Linked DNA regions of Homo sapiens: region 1 is linked to region 2. The links come from fine-mapping of genetic effects on gene expression. A gene starts in region 2. The other region holds a variant in brackets. All regions are shown on one strand. Distances are from middle to middle.

Region 1 (10,641 bases), 51 kb after region 2:
AGAATGGCCTCTCCTCTGTCTCTACTGACCTATATTCTCCTTCTTCAGCACGTTGATCAGAATCTGTGTCTTCCAGTAAACTTTCTTGATCAACCTCTTCCCACTATCATAGCTTCTTTATCTGCATTGTCTTTGAATTCATGTAATTGAGAATTTCTTCTGTGTGTGACAGTGAAAGAGAGGTGAGTATGTGTTGTAATTTAAGAATTTTAGATCAGTTCAAATGTATATATTCCAAAATTGCAGTTCAAATTCAATTATATTATTGGGTGGACATGTAAGGAAAAAACTTTACGTTTAATTTGGTGTAGCCTGGTACAGAAGATTAAGAGGAGGTTTGGATATTGTAATTTGGATATTGTGCTATCCAATATTTGCTTTCAGATATAGAAACTGAGGTTTTTAGAAATGAAGAGACTTGTCTGAGGACACACAGTCAGACAAGAATACAGCTATGATGTAAATCTAATTTACCTAATGTCCAGTGTAATATTATCTAAACCTCCTAATCCTGCCTTTTAAAGCTACATCTTAATTTCTGCTACCAATACTTTTGTCTCCTTTCCCACCCCATCCATGAAATGACATATGTGAGGGCATGGAGGACACTCAATATATGTTAACAAATGAGCCTGCTTTAATTAAGTTAATTTAGACAACAAAAATACAGGGACTATTTGGGCTATTGTCTTTGGCCTTTCCTGTAGCTAATTCCATACTGCTGTTACCTTCTGCATGTTCTAGTGGGTCTGCAGAATATAAAGTTCCATGTTGAAGTGAAATGAGGACTCCCAAAGCCCAACCTGGTAGTGAGGAGGAATGGAGGGAGCCTTAGTTACCTGCCGGATTTGAGCTCCTTCTGGTGTTAGAAGTCCTTCAAATAGTAGATCATCAGCTACCTTGTTGATATCCCTTAGCCGAGGCTCATTGGTATTCAAATCCTGAATGGGAAAATTCATCCAAAGCAGTGTAAATTCATCCAAAGCAGTGTAAATCCCCTCATCAAGAATCTACCATACTTACCTGTCCATCTCTGCCCCTACATCACCGTAATACACACCAAGCTCCTCTCCTCCAATCCACCACTGAGAAGAGTATCCTTAAAGATCTTGACACCTAGTGGCTGTCCAAAACTTGTCAAGATAACTATTATTTATCTGTAGTATGAAGCACAGCCATTTTTCTAGATTTCTTAAAATCTCCCCTGGATTAAATTATACCATTAGAGGGATTGATACCTGAGCTGTGTAACATCCTTTTCTACCAGTACAAACTCCAGCTTTAAAGATTTCTTTAACTGAGTTATTATCTGCCTATATTATGAGATATTGTAAGAAACAGCTCTAGGGAGTGCTCTCTCTCTCTCTCTCTCTCTCTCTCTCTGTGTGTGTGTGTGCGCGTGTGTGTGTGTTAAATCCCACGTGGAAGATATCAAAAGAAAAAGAAAAGAAGGAATGTACACTCACTGCTAGTTAAGATAATGGAAAAAAATCTAAGGGAAGAAAGAATATTGAAAGGGTTTTAGGTAGGCAAAAAATTAGAAATTGTTTGTCAAGTCAGGTTCTTCCTTCTTCCACCCCAAACTCTGCCCCATAATTAAACTTTACACATGGTACAACAATACCTTATCCCAACCTGGGCACTGGAAACAAAGTATAGTATAGGGCAAGTTGTGAAGAATTCAGGAAGACCAGCACTCCAGGGAGGATTTTGGAGTGGCAGGCACTGAAGGCTGCAGTTAGGGTAACTAGTTTTCTCTGCATTTCCCTTCCAATTATTAGCAACTACAATACCTAGAGGGAGATCTCAGCCACAGAGTTGCCAATAGCTTTGGGGAGAATATTTAACAAGTGTGAAATAAATTAAAAGATCATGTAGAATATGCTGAGGGATAAAAGCAAACAATGGCAACCTTCAAGAGAAGGTTCCTCTTTCTCACCTTTTGGAACTCATCAAACTTTTTCTGCAGCTCCCAAACATCATCTAGTTCCACTCCAGTGTTTTCTGCCTTTTTCTCTTGAATCCATTCCAGCATGTCTCCTGCCTCATAGGCCAATAAAAATTCATTATAACGTTGCAATAGACGACGTCTGCGTTCTTCTGCCCGATCCAAGAGGGAGCGGTATCTGGATGGAGAATTGGGAAAAGTGGAATAAAAGAAGGAGAAAATACAGAAGAGTAGAGGCTGAGTGACAAACATAGAGAAAGAAGGAACAAAAATGAAAGGGAAAACAAATCAAAAGCAAAAGAATAGTAGAAGAGAGGAGGAAATAAACTTAGAAGGAAAACAGCCTTGGGGGCAAAAAGATAAACACATAGGATTGCATTTAAAAATAGTAAAAATGCCAGTGACCCAATAGTATGACTGGCAACATTCCTTTCCCATTTCATAAAAGTGACATTTTTACATGGTAACTGACAATTGGATATGAAAAGCCTGGCATAGTAAACAAAGTTCATATAGATGTCAGGAGACTTTAATAACCTTGAAAGAATGTGGGGCAGGGAATCAGAAGAGCTCTGTGAAGTGTATGACCTCAGGAAATTGATGGAATGATTCTGGGGTTGCCTTTCCTCAAAAAGAAACCGAAACATTTAAAAGATTCTAGGTTTACTTTCGATTCTTAAAATCTTCAGATTTTCTGTGGCATCTCAAATCTAACAGATGCAGGGTCATGAGAAGAAATGCCTTTGGCGAAAAATGTCTGACCAAATACTGTTCAGTTCTCCAGGCTCCAGAACTTACTGGTTCTCAATCTGCTCCTGGCGCTGGGTGATGTTTCCTGGCTCTTCTCGTCGCCGCTGTGGGAGCATCGGGAACTCATCGTGGGCCAGTCTTCTGACATAGACAGCTGGGACAATGCCCTGATGATCAGCAGCTTCCACCTTCCACCAGTCCTGAAGGGAGAGCAGATCCCCACTCCGTCATTAATTCTTGGAAAAGCAACAAACGGGAGAGACTTCAACACTAAGTCTCTTGGCCCAGGCACAGGTTAATGGCAAAGATAAGCTAACCATGTCTAATGAGTGGCACATAATTTTCATATATGACCAAGAAATGAAATGAAGAATTGCATAGACAAGCCCCTGAAATCAAGTAATCTGATACCTAATGTTAGACCCTTAACTTTGGAGAGATTTTCAAACACCCAAGACAGCTCTTTTAATGATGGGGCACTTTGTTCATGAGGAATTTACAAAAAACACATGGAGCCAGGCTCTAGCTGGATTTCTTGGCAGTGGAGCGTCTGTGTAAGAGGATATTGCACAAAAATTCTTCTCTTCTATTCTTCTTGCAGAGGTCTGAAAAATGTGAATTGCTCTGACATTCATATACCTGAGTGTTACTTTATTTTTTATTTTTGAACTGTTGCCACATCTACCAAAACCCTGAGGCTAATTTCCTCAAAAAATAATGAAGAGGCCTAGACAAAGAAAAAATGGACTGGCACACATTATTTGATAATGAAACATCTGCCGCTCCAAACATTTACTTGTCTTTGGAATAACTATAGCCCAAACTATTTTCTTTTCTTCTTAAGAATTTTTGTAGATTAATTAGGTATCAGAGTATAAAAAATTACTTCAGTTTTTATGAAAAATATATTTAAAAATCTCAACCAATATTTTATCACTGTTCTTCCAGGCACAAGATCTAAAGAAAATCAAGTTGACAAAAGACTCATCTTTTGGTAGGCTCCTTCTAACCCCAGACATTGTTATTTTATCACTAGAAATACTGGCACAGAAGAGGAACAAGCAAAGAGGAAGAAAGAAAGAGACAGCTTAGCCCTTTAAATATATTATAGAATTTCCACTCATACTTTCTATATCTTTGGGCTAATTATATAACTTCAATTCTTTATGATTTTAACTGCAACATTGGGATTATAATTCCAAAAGATATGTGTAGGATCCTGCAAAATATCTACAGGAAAAATACTACCTAATCAGTTATAGTTATTCAAGAAATAAAATAATAAAATAAATGTTAGATGGTAAAAATATGAATATCTGGCAGGATTGGGAGAGATGGTTCTGAAAGAGCCACTTTTTGATGGAAAGATTAGAAGGAAAAGTCACCTTATTGATGGAACTGAGCAGCGTTAAGACATCACCTTTCTTCATGGTGACTTCTCGGGGGCTGCGGGCCTGGAAGTCATATAAAGCCATGACCCTTTGTTCTCCAGCAACTCCCTCCACTGGTGCA[G/T]CCTGTTGTTGCTGAATAAAAACAGGAAGCAGGTGTCAGTCACGCACTGGAAATATCTCCCTGTACAGCTTACCAGGGGTGAGTAGTCCTTTAGGCTTCCCAGGAGAAAAGAGCCTCTGGCTGGAACCTCTTACGTGGCTGCAGAGATTAAAGTATGTGGTCTTCAGAGAGACTGCTCCATTCTGACACTTATCGGGGACAGGCAGGTTGGGAACTATAAACCCAAAGCAAGGAAGGAAATACATAATTTGTCAGAAACGTATTAAATGCTCTAAGCCATCAGTTCTTAAAATGGGAGGAGTACATTTTAAGAAGTGTACTCCCTTAAGAAGGTCCAACAGGATTATACACATCAACATTTCAAAAAATTGTTTGAGAAAGTGAAAAGACCCACTCTCTGTCGTCACCTTTCCCTGTACCTCCAGTGATAATTCTTCCCACTCCTTCTGGCCTTTAAGTTACTATGTCAGGAGCTCCGGACCTTCTATTTGAGATATGAGTGATCAATAGCACAGGAAAGGCCACAGAATTTTAAAAACTGAGAACATTAACTGAGATCATTAAAAGTATCTTGTGTCTCAGTTTAGTAAGCAGCCTGCATTCTAAGGTAGAATTTTCTCTGATTTTTACTTTCTGCCAATTTCATGTCTCTGAGAAATCAAGCAAAACATAACCCCTCTTCCTAAGGAATGACCCACCCCTTCCTCAGGTTGGAGTTGAATATGCACCTCCACCGACAGAGCCCTCTAATTTCATCTCCTTTAGGTAACATGTTTCCTCATACCACACAATATATAAATCCTTCTGTTCTTGTTTAGGCACCCACTGTGCAGAGCCTGGTGAAGGCACAGTATAGGAGGTCTGTAAATATACACTGATTTGACAGACTGAGTCTACGTCTTTTGTTTACTCTGAATGTGTGGATTAACAACCTCTCATTAGAAAGAATTCCTTGAAGGTAAGAAGTGTGTCTCTTTTTTTCTACCACTACATATAGTAGACATTGTTATAACATTTATTTGATTCCAGTTCAATTAATCTTCATGACACCCAGTTTTGCCCTGTACCTGAGCCATTCTCATATTCTCAACCAATTGCATCTTCCATTCTCACATTCTTAACCAATTGCATTTTCCACAAAACTTGATTGTTTTGTGCCTCAGTGCATTTGCTCTCATGGTTTATTGACTAGAAAAACGCTTATCCTCTTTCTCTGCACAGTAAACTACCCATCTGTCTTTCCTTAATAATTCAGATCAGGCGGTTTCCCTTAGCTTACAAAAATTTTCCTGTTTTCCAGTACTGTTATTTCAAGAGAACACAAGAGGCCTTTCTTTGAGACTCTTTGTCCTGTTCATACATCTATTATATGCACTTACTGTTAAACATCTGGCCTCCTAATAGACTGTAATTTTCCTGCAAATCAGGATTTTTTATTCATACTTACATATAGTAGACATTTAATAAGTTTTGGCATTAAAAATTAAGAAACAAAAGAAGGGAGTAAAGAAGAAAGATAAGAAGGAGAGACATAAATGAAGAAAAGTAAGAAAGAAAGAAGGGTAGAAATATAAAAGGAAGGAAAGAGGAAAGCCAAAAATACATCAATGAAGACATGATACCATTTATCAAAAACCTCTTTTGGACAAAGTCTCCTTTGGACTAAATTGTGGATGCTACAGTTCCTGCATACAAGGGTCATAGAACTTAGTGTTTTCTTTGCCATTGTTTTTGGGGTTGTAGAAAGTAAAAAATCAGCAATAAAGACAATTTCTTTTTCTTTGTGGTGGGAAGTGTGAATCCTGTCATCGCTAAGTTAGTCTTACCTGGCAGGCGTTTGCCTGATTCCGCAGAGCTTTCATACTGTCTCCAAATGAATTGAGATCTAATAGAAAGGCCTCATGCTTCTTTAGAAGAGCCTGCATTTATTGATGGAAGATCATCAGAATGAATATAGGAGGAACACTATTATTTCAACTACTATTATTTTGGGTTATGCTATTTGTCTTAAATCCTGGTAAAAGCTGCTTTCCATCTATCATAAAGTTATTTTTAACCCTAAATTTGCAAGCATGAAGGAAATAGGAATTAATAAATTATAATTTCAATATGTTTACTAAAATCAAAATTAACTCAAACTTGCAAAAGTATTTTTATCAACACAGATTATAGCTGAAAAGAGGATGCTGTTGATACTGTTACTTTATAGGATAAACATTAGTGTAACTTAAAATATGCATACCAATAATTTCTAGTTCCAAAGGTTTGTGAAATACTATACCAGCTTCCTATGGGACAATGTGCAAAACAAATAAATGGATAAAAAGTGTGATTATAACCTTTGTGGTTCTTCTTGCCCCAACATATCTGTCCAATTTTATTTTAATCAAGTAATTAAGGTGTCTCTATCTTAAAACCATGATTAATTTATAAATGCTCAAGGTTACTCTGGAAAGTTTAGGATCGGATTATGACTATGACTCTGATCACACTTTTTTGATTTAGATAATCTCTAAAGAGTATATGAATCTCCATGGGATGAGAAAAATGTAGCATATCTTTTGGGATTCCTGTCAACTCTGAGGGAGTCTCAGCAGATGAAGGCCAACGGCGACCACTCTGGAAACCCCAAATAATCTGGCAGAATCTGTAGCTGTCCCACAACCTAAGCAAACCCTAAATTGATAATTTGGTTGCGTTTGTTGAGGATTCACAATGTTAAACCCACCCCCACCTTACCCCAGCTGCTTCTTCATCAGCACCATAGTTAGTATTATCTACAATAGGTTCCTTCTCTCTGATCCATGTTTCTGCTTCATGCAGGTCAGCCAGGTACTGCTGGAACTGGACATTGGCTTCAAGATCATTTTGTCGCCTAGCAGCTCGAGCACGGAGAGACTCCATATTCTGGTTCAAACTCTTGACCCTAGAGGCCACATCTTCTGCAGCAAAGTGTCCTATGGAGTAATTATAGAAAAGGTGAGTATGATCCTCATGAGTGTTTACCATACTCTAATCCTTTTGGTACCTTGGAAAAGAGAAAGGAAGTGATAAAAATGGTATGTTATTTAGTCGACGTTATATTTTTCTTGAGTTACCTGGGAATTGAAATATCCTAAGTGAGATTAAGTAACAAAAGGTACTAATGGGAGATATGCATGTGGTGGTGAATGGGTTGGTATTGTCTGACAAAGACAGACTTGAAAACAGAATACTAATGTGTGGGTGACTGAGAGTTCCAAAATCATGTCTTCTTTAGATGAAGCAGAAAAATCAGCTGATTTCCATTTCTTCCCATAAAGGAGTTATTACTATGAGAGTTGCTCTTCCACCCTAAACAACTAGAAAACAGGAAAAGCTGTAAGATAAAATGATTTTCAGACAATGGAGAGAGGACTCTGATTCCTGAGAGAAGGGAAATAAATGAGATATATTTTATAATTGCCAAGCTTATGCCTCAGGAGGTTTCTGGGCTGTAGGCCTGGGTAGCTAACCCAGATAGAACCACCAGTCACACTGAATTGAGGACACAGAGATCAACATTTGGGAAAGACAAGAGAACTAGAACTTGTGAGGTTGAGTGTCAAAGAGAAGGGTGTTACAGAGAGATAGACCTTTTCAGAGAAGTTCCCTAGAGTATTTGTCTGATTACTCATATGCACACATGTATAAGGAAATCCTGGAGGGTGAGAAAAGAGTGACTTAAAAGCAGTGGACAAACAACTTCTAGGCCTCAATTAAGAATGAAAATAGTTAACATTCCACCCATCAAAGTGGAAAAATATTGTAATACATGAGATAGGGTCCTCAGAAGAGTAACATATCTCAATATTACTTTCATCTCTAAATCAGTCCCCTAATAAACCCTGCCCCAGGAGTACCATAACAAAACAGATCCAAGGAGCTCAACAATCACCGAGCTGAATAAACAAGGAAAACTCCATCAAGTTATAGCATAATCAAGTTGTTTAATACCAGTGATAAAGAGAAAAGCTTTAAAACAGGTAGAGGGGGAAAAAAAGACATATTACATACAGAGGAGCAAAGATCATGATGACAGCAGACTTCTTATCAGAAGCTTGCAAAGTCAGAAGACAAGACAGCACATCTTTAAAATACTGGAAGAAAGAAGTTGTCAACCAAGAATTTTATATGTAGTGAAAATATATTTCAAAAAGGAAGGTAGAATGAAGACCTTTAGATGAACAAAAGTCTAGAGAATTTATGGATAGAAGACCTGCAATATAAGGAATGTTAGATGAAGTTCTTCAAGCAGAAGAAAAATAATACAAATGAAAATATTAACCTAAAGAAAGGAATGAAGAATACTGGAAATGGGAACTATGAGGGTGAATTTTTTTCTCATTTAATAATCTCATTCAAAACCAGTTGACTACCAAAGCAAAGATAATGATGTTGAATTATAGGGTATATAACATGTAAAAATTTAAAATATGTGACACCAATAGCACAAGGGTGAAAACAAATGGAAGTATCAATTTAAGAATCTTATATTAAACATGAAATGCATAATATTATTTGAAATTAGACTATGATAGATTAAAAAAATCTATATTTTAATTCCTGGAATAGTGGCTTTCAAATTTGTGCTTTTGGGATCCCTTTACAATTTTAAAAATTATTAAGAATGCAAAATATCTTTTGCTTATATAGTTAGACTGATTAATAGTTCCCATATAAGAAATCAAAACAAGAAGCTTTGAAAGAAAAGAATGTACAAGCATATACTCCATTAGACAGAACAGTGACATCATCACCCATCTCTAGGCTCTGGGAAACTCCATTCTATGCTTATAAAAGAATAAGTCTGTAAAAGAAAATAATAGTCTTAGCATTATTTTTTTTTTTTTTTTTTTTTTTTTTGAGACGGAGTCTCGCTCTGTCGCCCAGGCCGGACTGCGGACTGCAGTGGCGCAATCTCGGCTCACTGCAAGCTCCGCTTCCCGGGTTCACGCCATTCTCCTGCCTCAGCCTCCCGAGTAGCTGGGACTACAGGCGCCCGCCACCGCGCCCGGCTAATTTTTTGTATTTTTAGTAGAGACGGGGTTTCACCTTGTTAGCCAGGATGGTCTCGATCTCCTGACCTCATGATCCACTCGCCTCGGCCTCCCAAAGTGCTGGGATTACAGGCGTGAGCCACCGCGCCCGGCCTAGTCTTAGCATTATTATGAAAATATTTTAACTTTGTGAATCCACTAAGAGTGTGTCAGAGACCCTAAAAGGACTCCAAATCACAATGGCAAAATCACTGTGCTATAATAAACATACACACACAAACACAAAACAGCAATTGTAGCTAATAGGCCAATTTGAAGATAAGATGGAATCACAATAAATACAAAATTGATCTAAAGGAGACATAAAGTGATAGATAAAAAGAAAAAACATAGCAACTTGCCAGATTTAAAATAAACCATATTGATGATTGCACTAAGTGTAAATTGTCTAAATATCACAATTAAAAAAGAAAAATTACCAGATTGAATAGAATAAAAACAAGGCCTGATTATATGCTATTTATAAGAATCTCACTTTAAATATAAGAAACAGAGTGCAAGCAAAAAGATGGAGAAATATGCACTATGCAAAAACTAATCAAAAGATAGCTCATGTGGCTTTTATTAGTTTACTAAAGGCTTCAGAACAAAGAATTTCACCAGGGATAAAGATTGATATTTCATAATGTGAAGATTTAACTTCATCAAAAAGACATAACAATACTAAATGTATATGCATGTAATAACAGAGCTTCAAAATATAAGAAACAAAAACTGATAGAACTGAAAAGAGAAGAAGACAAAATCTACAAGTATAGTTGAAGATTTAAAAAACAGGCGAATTTCTACAGTTGTTGGTTTGAATCACTCAGGTGGGATCTGAAGTTTTTCTCAGCAAACTGAATTTTAACCTATACTTTTGAAAACTAGATACTGGTTGGCATCAACTGATTCTTCAATCAACAGAGGGAAAATCCCAGTGTAATCTGCACTGCTTATACCATACCTGGCTTATGATGTTCAAAACTGAACATCATACTTAAGCATCAGGAATTTCTGAATTGGATGAAAAGAATGAACAGAGGTATTGAAACTATATGAAGTGAGAAGCTAAAGAAATGGAACAGTTTACTATAAAAATAGTTCAACACTGCATAACTAAGATCTGCCTTCACAGATCTGGAAGCTCCCATATGGAAAAGAGACCTGATTTAATTCATAGGGCTTTGTAAATTAGATTCTGAATTCTGGAACTTCTACAGAGAAGCATATTAATGATTAGGATAAAGACATTTTACTTTAATAATTTTTGTTTTACAAACAAATAGTGGTTCACAGGATTGGAATATTCCTGTTATTGAAATATACAAACAAAACCATATGCCCATTTGTCAGAAATGCCAAAAGAGCATT
Region 2 (10,641 bases):
CCAGATAAGCCAATGCTGAGGAAAATCATTGCCATTGAACTGACCCTAAAAGAAATGCTCAAGGAAGTCCTAAACCTGGAAGCAAAAGAACATAATGGAAACACATGAAGGTATAAAACTCACTGGTAAAGTAATCACACATAAGATAAAGAGAAAAGACTCAAATGATACCACTACAGAAATCCACCAAATCACAAAGGTAGTCAATATAGGAAAAAGAAAGCAATAAAGAATATAGAAAACAAACAGAAAACAACTAATGATATGACAGCCTCACAATTACTAATAACCTTGAATGTAAATGGATTGAATTTTCTATTTAAAAATATAGAATGAATGAATGGATTAAAAAAAACATGATCAAACTATATGCTGCTTAGAAAAAAACTGGCCTTAAGGAAAAACTTAAGAATTTTTTAAAAAATCATGAAACAAATGAAAATGGAAGCACAACACACCAAAACCAGTGGGATACAGCAAAAGTAGTGCTAAGAAGGAATTTTATAGCAATAAATGCCTACATCAAAAAAAAAATAGAAAGATAACTTAACAGTCTAACAACACACCTCAAGAAACTTGAAAGGCAAGAACAATGCAAACTTAAATTTAGCAGAATAAAAGAAGGAATAAAGATCAGAGCAAAAGTAAATGAAATAGAGACTAAAAAATTACAAGGGTCAACAAAATGAAAAGTTAGTTTTCTATAGAGTCAAACAAAATTGATAAACCACTAGCTCAAATAATGAAGAAAAGGAGAGAAGACTCTAACAAAATTGGACATTAAAAAGAAGACATTTCAACTGGTACGACAGAAATTCAAAAGATCATCACACACTATGCTGACATATAGGCTGACAAACTGGAAAACCTAAAGGAAATGGATAGATTCCTGGAAATATAGAACTTCCCAAGGTTGAGTCAGGAAGAAATAGAAAACCTGAACAGTCCAATATCAAGTAGGGAAGTTGAATCGGTTATAAAATGTCTCACAACAAAGATAAGCCCAGGAGCACATATATTCACAGGTATATTCTACTAAATGTACAAAGAAATAATACCAATTCTTCTGAAACTATTCTAAAAAAATTAAAGAGTATGAAATTTTTTTCTAACTCATCTATGAGGCCAGCATCACCTTGATATTACAACCAGATAAGGACACAACAACAACGCACACCACAGGCCAATATCCTGATGAACACAAATGCATAAATCCTCAACAAAATACTAGCAAATGGAATCTTGGAGCTCATAAGAAATATATATATGATGATCAACATATTTATACTGGGCATGCAAGGATGGTTCATCACATGCAAATCAATAAACATGATACTTCACATTAATAGAATGAAGCATAAAAACCATATGATCATCTCAATAGATGTAGAAAAAGCATTTGCTAAAATTCAACATTGCTTTATGATAAAAACTTTCAACAAAGTAGGCATAGGAGCAACATATCTCAAAATAATAAAGGCTATATATGATAAACCCACAGCTAACACCATATGAATGAAGAAAATGTGAAAACCTTTGTTCTAAGATATGAAACAAGGATGCCCACTTTCCCCAAAACTATTCAACATGATACTGGAAGTTTCAGCCAGAGAAATCAGGAAAGAGAAAGAAACCAAGGCATCCAAATTGGAAAAGAGGAAGTCAAATTGTCCCTCTCTGCTGTTGATATAATCTTATATATAGCAAAATTTAAGACTCTAGCAAAAACTACTAGATTTGAATTCAGTAAAGTTGCAGGGTACAAAATCAATGTAGAAAATTCAGTAGCATTTCTATGTATCAATAATTATCTAGCCGATACCGAAATCAAAAGGCAATAACCTTTATAATAGCTGCCCTCCTCCAAAAAATACAGAGGAATAAATATAACCAAGGAGGTAAAAGGTCTCCACAAGGAAAACTATAAAACATTGATGAAAGAAATTGAAGATGACACAAACAAATGGAAAAACATCCAGTGCTCATGGATGGGAAGAAATAATAGCAAAGAACAAGAAAAAAAATACTAAAATTTATATAAAGCCCCAAACAAGCCTGAACAGCTAATGCAATTCAGGGCAAAAAGAACAAAGCTGGAGGCATCACATTACCTGACTTCAAAATGTATTACAAGGATATAGTACCCAATACAGCATGCTGTTGTAGAAAAATAGACACAAAATCCCATGGAATAGAATAGAAATTCCAGAAAGAAAGTCACATACTTAGAGCCAACTGATCTTCAACAAAGCCAATGAGAACTTACATTGAAGACAGGACATGTTCTTCAATTTATGGTGCTGGAAAAATTGGATAGCCACATGCAGAAGAATGAAATTAGACCCCTATTTCTCACCATAAACTCAAAATTGATTAAGGACTTAAACATAAGACCTTAAATAATAAAACATTAGAACAAAACCTAGAGAAATATTTCCTGGACATTGGTTTAGGCAAATAATTTATGACTAGGACATCAAAAGAACAGGTGACAACAACAACAAAAAAGTGGGACCACATTAAACTAAAAAGCTTCTGCACAGTAAAGGAAACAATCAACAAAGCAGAGAGCAATCTTTTGAATGGGAGAAAATATTTGCAAAATATTTGTCTTGCAGGGAAATTATATCCAGAATATACAAGAAACTCAAACAACTCAGCAGGAAAAAAAACCCAAATAAACCCATTAAAAAGTGGGCAAAGAATATGAATAAACATTTTTCAAAAGAAGACATACAAATGGCTAACAAGTATATGAAAAAATGGTCAACATCAAAAATCATCAGATAAATGCAAATCAAAACCACAGTGAGATATCATCTTACTTCAGTCAGAATGGCTATCATTAAAAATAACATGTTGGTGAGGATGTGGAGAAATTTTCACACATTTGCTAGTAGGAATGTAAACAAGTACAGTCACTATGAAAACAGTATGGAGAGTTCTCAGCTATTTTATCCAGCTATCTCACTACTAGATATCTACATAAAGGAAAAGAAATGGCTATATCAAAGGGATAACTACTACACTCACATGCTTATTGTAGCACTATTTACAACAGCAAAGATATGCAATCAGTCTAAGTGTGCATAGATGGATGAATGCATAAAAAACAAAAATGTGGTAGATATACACATTGAAATAATATTCAGGCATAAATGGATGAAATCATGCCATGTGCAGCAACATGGATGGAACTGGAGGTGATTATCTTAAGTAAAATAAACCAGACACACAAAAAGTAAATATTGCATGTTCTCACTTTCATGTGGGAGCTAAAAAATTTGATTCCATGGAAGTAGGTAGTGGAAAGATAAATTAAAAATACTGGGAAGGGTCAGGATGAACGGTTGCATGAAGATAATTCTGTTAAATAGTGTTAGGGTTCTCTAGGGGGACAGCACTAATAGGATAGATGCATATATGAAAGGGAGTTTATTAAGAAGTATTGACTCACACAATCACAAGGTGAAGACCCACAGTAGGTCATCTGCAAGCTGAGGAGCAAGGAAGCCAGTTCGAGTCCCAAAACCTCAAAAGTAGGGAAGCCGACAGTGCAGCTTTCAGTCTGTGGCTGAAGGCCTGAGAGCCCCTGGCAAACTAATGGTGCAGGCCCAAGAGTCCAAAAGCTGGAGAACTTGGAGTCCGATGTTTGAGGTCAGAAAGCATCCAGCATGGGAGAAAGATGGAGGCCAGAAGACAGTCAGTCTAGTCATTCCACACCCCTCTGCCTTTATCCTAGCTATGCTGGCATCTGGTTAGATTGTGCCCACCCACATTGAGGCTGGGTCTGCCTCTTCTAGTCTACTGACTCAAATGTTAATCTCCTTTGGCAACTCCCTCACAGAGACACCCAGGAACAATACTTTGCATCCTTCAATCCAATCAAGCTGACACAATAATAACCATCACCCAGTGCCAATATACAATGAGATGGAGTAATGTTTGATATCAGAATAGGGTGACTATACTTAACAAAAATGTATGTACTAGGGTGACAGAAGCCCTGAATACCCTGACTTGATTACTATGCATTATGTACGTATAACAAAATATCTCATGTACCCTATACATTTGTACAAACAAAAAAGAAAAAGATAAAGAAAAATATTGAAGAAATAACAGCTGAAAACTTCCCAAATTTGGTGGAAAATATTAATTCACTAGTTCAAGATATTCAAGAAGCCACAAGTAAGAGAAACACATAAGGTACATTCAAGTACATTTTAGTTAAATTTCTTATAGTAAAGAGAAAATATTAAAGCAACTAGAGAAAAATGACACATTATATGAGTGGAAAAATGATACAATTAATGGTAGCATTCTCAACAGAAACTTTTGAAGACAGAGACATTGAAAATGGCATAGAAAGATGAAAGAAAAAAACCCTGATGACTAGTAATTTTATATCCAGTAAAAATACATTTCACAAAGAAAGAAAAAGTGAAGATATTTTCAAATAAATAAAAATGGAGATAATGTATTGCTAGCAAAACTACACCATAAGAAATACTAAGAGAAATCCTTAAGGATGAAGGAACATAAAATCTGATTATACAAGAAAGATTGAAGAGCACTGAAAATGATAAATATTGGTTAAATATAAAAGATTTGCACAAACATAATTTTCTCTTAATTTCTTTATAATAGCATATGCCTGTTCAAAAATTATGACAACGTGTTAGTAGATTTACATAATTGGGACTAAGACATTGCAAATTTTCTACATTTAACTGGAAATAATTCAATGTTAAGTTTAAGTAGATTATGTTAAAAATACATGCTGTAATTGCTAGATCAACAACTAAAACAACATTGCAAGAAAAATAGTTATAAAATCAATTGTTATTTTGTTCCAACATCTAACTCATCTTCCTAACCCCAAAGCAGGGTCCTGGGAATAGTATGGTAAACAAAAGAAAGGCTTCTTAAGTCTACTTACTACTGCCTCACCAATTGACTGTGTTATCTTGGGTAAGTTATTTAATATTTTTCATGCCTCAGTGTTCTTATTGGAAAAATAGGAATAATAATAATACTCACATATTTTATTAAATTTATATAATGAAATTAGTCAATATCTGTTGATGAATACATGTTGCCAATTATCATTGTTGTTTCTATTAAATCAGTCAATGAGTGAAGATGTATGTAGAAGGTGCAACTATTTACACCATTAAGTATATCAGAGAGACATGCATTTTAAGAGTGACAAGTCAGATTAACCTAGTTGTAGGTAGACTTTTGGGACATTTTAAGGTTTCAGAACAATCTGAAGGTGGAAAGTATATCACTTGTCTGGATGCAGATATTGCAGCATTGTTGAAACAAAGGAAGAGGATGAAAATAAGGTAAAGTTGCTTTTAAAATGATGCATCTGAGAAAAAAATGGAATAGACAAATGAGGATGCAGGAATAAATTGACCCTGAAAGAGATCAGAATTTTCTTCAGAATGACTTTGAAACCAGGCACATATCCAAAGTAGTTATATCAAGCTCTTGAGACAGCAGTGGGGAGCAGCTGAATTCTTGTTTCATTTTTAAATTATACATCTTATGGTATAAATTTATAAGCATAAGTCCTTAGTTCTGTAATTTTGGACCAGTTATTTAAAGTCTATTAGGCTCAGTTACACTTCTATAAAGTGTAACTATTAACACTATCTCACTAGGCTGCTGTAAATTTTAAAAGAGATTTATGTTGTGAAAAAAATTAGTGTTTAATACTTAGCACATGATACAATACTTATTATTTAAATCATGATCCTAGTATCTCTTGTTCACATTCCCCTTTCTGCTTTCCCCAAAAGGATATTCCCAACTAATGACAAAAAAACACAATTAGACGTGCTTCCTGAGACAGCACCCATTGGGACTAGAGAATCCTCTGAGAAAGAAGCTGTTTGGATGGAAGAAGGTATTATTTACCACCTGGAACTAGGGGTGTGGAAGAAGATTTCTTTGTATCATTTGGAGACATCACACTGCTCAGAGTAGGAGATTTCAAGATGCATCTCAAGTCTTTCTCCTGTGGTCTATCCTGCTGGGAGGCAGTCTAGTGCATGGGAGCTAAAAGGCAGGACTTGCTTTGTGAGCCTCTTCAGGTCAGCGTGAGTCTGTTCAGGTGAGTGGAGAATCCTCCCTTGACTTATGCTTTGGTTTAGAGTAGAGTTTTTGGAGGCAGCAGTACCTGATTTTGGGCTGAGAGATGCATGCTGCACAACCTGCCTTGAGCCCTGACATTTTCTTCCGTGCTTAACATAGATTCACAGGTAAAAGAAGCCTGCCCTACTCTGCCCAAGGAATTTGGAAAGGGTAAAATGGCTTGGAAGAGGGGTTGTATAGATAAAGTGATTATCGTTGAACTAACTATTTCTTACTCCATATTCATATTAGTGTGTGTTCCATAGTCTCTAAAGAGAGTCATCATTGTATGGGGAAAATAAGGATAGATTAAGAGTCACCATACTTGTTTTCTAATACTGGTTCTGTGTGACTTCAAGAAAGTCACTTCACCTCTCTTGATCTTTGTTACCTGATCTATAAAACAAAATCCATCAAGATCAAGTTTCCCCACCTCCCCACAAAGTTCTAACAAGCAATATGGGTGTGTCCATATGTGTATTCTTATGTGATAGTGTATGTATAAAGACAATATAAACGTATATGTGGTGTGTGTATCTTTATATGTGATGTGTGTATCTACGAATTTGCATGCTATCTATATACATATGTGTTTGTAATGTATGTGCCTGCCTGATATATTTGTGGATATGGCCATTAATAGCAAATGTATAATTTATAGTTTTGAATGTGTAAGATATGCATAATTATGTGTGAATGCTATAAAGCATATATACACCTGCATGTATGTAGTCATACATATGTTTGTGTGCAAGTATGTGCATATGAATGTCTGTGATTGTGCATCTGTGTATGTGTATATGTACATACAGTCATATGGGAATGGACCCATACATTTGTGTCTAATTTAACAAATACTTTTTTGAAGTTTGAGTAGAGTCTAAATCAGAGCTGCCTTTTTAAGTTGCAACAGGAACAAGAGAAAAAGAATCCATATCATCCACCTTTTAAAGAAGTTAGGCATCTACTGGCAAGGTGGAAGAAATCAACAAATCTATCAGGGATATACCTCTCAGAATGGGGCAGACCAACGTAACCTCCTGGAGGGATTTTGTCTTCCTGGGCTTCTCCAGTTCTGGGGAGTTGCAGCTCCTTCTCTTTGCCTTGTTCCTCTCTCTGTATCTAGTCACTCTGACCAGCAATGTCTTCATTATCATAGCCATCAGGCTGGATAGCCATCTGCACACCCCCATGTACCTCTTCCTTTCCTTCCTATCCTTCTCTGAGACCTGCTACACTTTGGGCATCATCCCTAGAATGCTCTCTGGCCTGGCTGGGGGGGACCAGGCTATCTCCTATGTGGGCTGTGCTGCCCAGATGTTCTTTTCTGCCTCATGGGCCTGTACTAACTGCTTCCTTCTGGCTGCCATGGGCTTTGACAGATATGTGGCCATCTGTGCTCCACTCCACTATGCCAGCCACATGAATCCTACCCTCTGTGCCCAGCTGGTCATTACTTCCTTCCTGACTGGATACCTCTTTGGACTGGGAATGACACTAGTTATTTTCCACCTCTCATTCTGCAGCTCCCATGAAATCCAGCACTTTTTTTGTGACACGCCACCTGTGCTGAGCCTAGCCTGTGGAGATACAGGCCCGAGTGAGCTGAGGATCTTTATCCTCAGTCTTTTGGTCCTCTTGGTCTCCTTCTTCTTCATCACCATCTCCTACGCCTACATCTTGGCAGCAATACTGAGGATCCCCTCTGCTGAGGGGCAGAAGAAGGCCTTCTCCACTTGTGCCTCGCACCTTACAGTGGTCATTATTCATTATGGCTGTGCTTCCTTCGTGTACCTGAGGCCCAAAGCCAGCTACTCTCTTGAGAGAGATCAGCTTATTGCCATGACCTATACTGTAGTGACCCCCCTCCTTAATCCCATTGTTTATAGTCTAAGGAATAGGGCTATACAGACAGCTCTGAGGAATGCTTTCAGAGGGAGATTGCTGGGTAAAGGATGAAGGTTACCCCAATAGGACACTTTCTTCTGTGTAGGCTGGGCATAGACCAAGAACCCAAGCCAAAGGGCCAGGTATTCAAGGCCTCAGGCCAAAGCTGTCCTACCCCCAATCTTCTGGGAAAGCCTTATCCTGCCTCTTGCCCTTCCCCCTGACTGCTTGGAATGCAGAGGCGGGGCTTCCTGCTCTGCTCACTGTGCACAACTCAAAATGAGCCCAAAATCTGAATTTTAACTTTCAGCCTCCTAGATGCCACCCCTAGTTACTGAAACCCATTGAGAATTAAAAATTTAATTAAGATAATCAAGAATTTTTTAATTGAGCTGAACAAAATGAGGGAAGTTTGGAGTGTTCAAGTTCAAGGCAGGGCTGGCTGGAGCCCATCAGGGATACTGTAGAGATTTCTAAAATCATTACATAATTAGACTATTTGACCTGTAATGTTCTTCCAAGATTTGAAACCTGGGGAATATCAGCTTGACAGGTTAGTTTAAAGCTTTGTTAAATGAACAGGTGGGTCATTTTTACTCCCACTGGGTGTCTTTCATCTTTTTATGTTTTTATTTTTTTTAATTTCAACTATTATTTCATATACAGTGGGGCACATGTGCTTATACATTCCTCATTGTGCTATTGACAGTAGCAAAAACATGGAATCATCTTTTTATATAGTTGTCCTCACTATCTCTGACTCTGTTACTTTGCCCTTTTTGTTTTGATTGATTTTCCAAGCTGGGTGCACTCTATTTCAGAAAATATATTTACTTCCTATTTTTTTTTATAACTGTTAATGTTCCCTGGTAGCTTCAGAATCTTGAGTGTCAAAGACCTTTCTCATTTGGGTCGCTTATCAAATTGGATACTGTTCTTTTGAATCTATTGCAGAACTATCTATTCTGCCTATTCCACTTTCCACATATAATGTGGTTATATATAGCGGCGGACATTATTAGAGAAAGTGTAATGAACTCACAAGACCGTCAGGCAGGAGTTTGAATCCAAACTCTTCAACTTACTAGCTGTGTGACTCTAGGTAAGTTATTTAACATTTTTTTCAGCTTCCGAGTCTTATCTTTACAATGGTTGGTGACTAAACAGGATCATGCATACAAAGAATTTAGCACAACCCTTGGATCATAGCGATCGTCCAATAAATTCCAGTTGCTACTATTAAAATGTGTGAAGGAAAAAGATATTGGCTTTTAGTTTAGGTAGAGTTTACTCTAGGTGGAGGATCAGAGAAGACTTCATGTCTTAAATAGTATCTGAACTTGTTCCTAAAGGATGGGTGAGCTTTGAATGCACTGACTGGGGAGAAAGTACATTCTCAGAAGAGAGAATGTAATAGCCAAAGGCTTGATGGTAAGACAATATAAGCCTAGTTTAATGTGTGTGAGTTATTCAGAGGGGCTGGAAACAACTCACAAATGATGCTGAGAAGTTAGTTTGAGTCATGACTTACTTGTTGAAATAATTTGAATACCTTGCTTCAGACATGGTCCTTTTGTCTATAGGAGATAAGGCACAGTAAAACGTTGAACAGAGAGAGGCATCTGGGAAGGGATTCAGGAAGATTAATCCAGCAGCAAAGGGGATGATAGATTTCAGTAGAGAGAAACCAGAGGCAAGGAGATCAGCAAGAAACCCATGGATATCAGCTTAAAAAAAGGCAAAGAGGCTTGAATATGGATAGTGACATTCAGAGACTGAAGGAAATCACAAACATGAGATTTTGAGAAGGTAGAATTCACAGGATTTGGCAGTGAGATAGAAGTGGGGCATGGCTTGAGAGACAAGGAAAGACCTTAGGCCGAGAAGATATTTTTCAGACAGAAATCCATATTTTTTCATGCTTTCAGGAAAGAAATACATCCTCTAATTGGAATTTGATGAAAACAATTTGAGAGGAAGGAAGCTAGAGCTCAGAGAAGAGAACAGGATGAAGACAAGTAGATGAGTTAGTCAGATAGCCAAAAGGGCCTCATCAGGGGAGAAAGGCCATCTACTCTGAAGTTCTCAATATTGGAAGAAGTAATGCCTCATTGCACTGAGGCCATGTGAGCAAATTCATTTCACCAGTTCATTCAGTCTGCCCAGCATAACATTGACTAAATGCACAGTGACGAATGGTTAGTAAGGATGTTTCAAGTATTGCTAAGTAATACTTAGAGGTCTAACTTCCACATGTAGTAGTCTTAAGTATGGAAGGGTATAAAATCACTTGGAGGGATTTTTCCAAATAGGTGTTTTTGGAATCTATCTAATTTGTTTCTACCTTGAAACAATTGATTTGGGATAGGGACAACATAATAGTCTTCAAAATCTCGTTTGGTGATTCAAATTTCCTCTCTTGATTAAGTATGTGACTACGCGCTTAGAAAGGGCAAACTCTTCTTCCAGGTACACACATTTGACCCACTAAATGACTAATAATTTGATTTAGGCCTTGAAAATTTTTGGCAGGGTTAGCATTGGGGGAATGGAATCACATCCACCTTTGCTTGTGATTATTTTCAGCACAAATAGTTTTAGACTATCCAT

Direction of the effects. Positions count from the first base shown, and alleles are read on the strand shown. Sizes are in standard deviations (SD) of each study's normalised expression.
For the expression in spleen of the gene that starts at base 5,991 in region 2, allele T in region 1 goes with a higher level than allele G (moderate effect, 0.73 SD a copy in GTEx).

Evidence for each region. PIP is the estimated chance that this variant, and not a neighbour inherited with it, causes the effect.
Region 1: its variant is fine-mapped to the expression of OR10Z1 in spleen (GTEx, PIP above 0.99).

The regions. Positions count from the first base shown.
Region 1 is chr1:158,650,528-158,661,168 of GRCh38, forward strand. It overlaps SPTA1 (spectrin alpha, erythrocytic 1), which reads right to left. Exons shown (of 52, transcript NM_003126.4): 19 at 6,950-7,167; 20 at 6,037-6,129; 21 at 4,084-4,221; 22 at 2,747-2,898; 23 at 1,940-2,126; 24 at 840-941. Among named protein-coding and RNA genes, the nearest start is that of SPTA1, 31 kb to the right of the region's middle. RefSeq lists a silencer at 8,179-8,379. The variant G/T (reference allele first, on the strand shown) is at 4,211.
Region 2 is chr1:158,599,278-158,609,918 of GRCh38, forward strand. It overlaps OR10Z1 (olfactory receptor family 10 subfamily Z member 1), which reads left to right and starts at 5,991. Exons shown (of 2, transcript NM_001004478.2): 1 at 5,991-6,124; 2 at 7,049-10,641. The coding sequence starts at 7,162. The coding sequence ends at 8,103.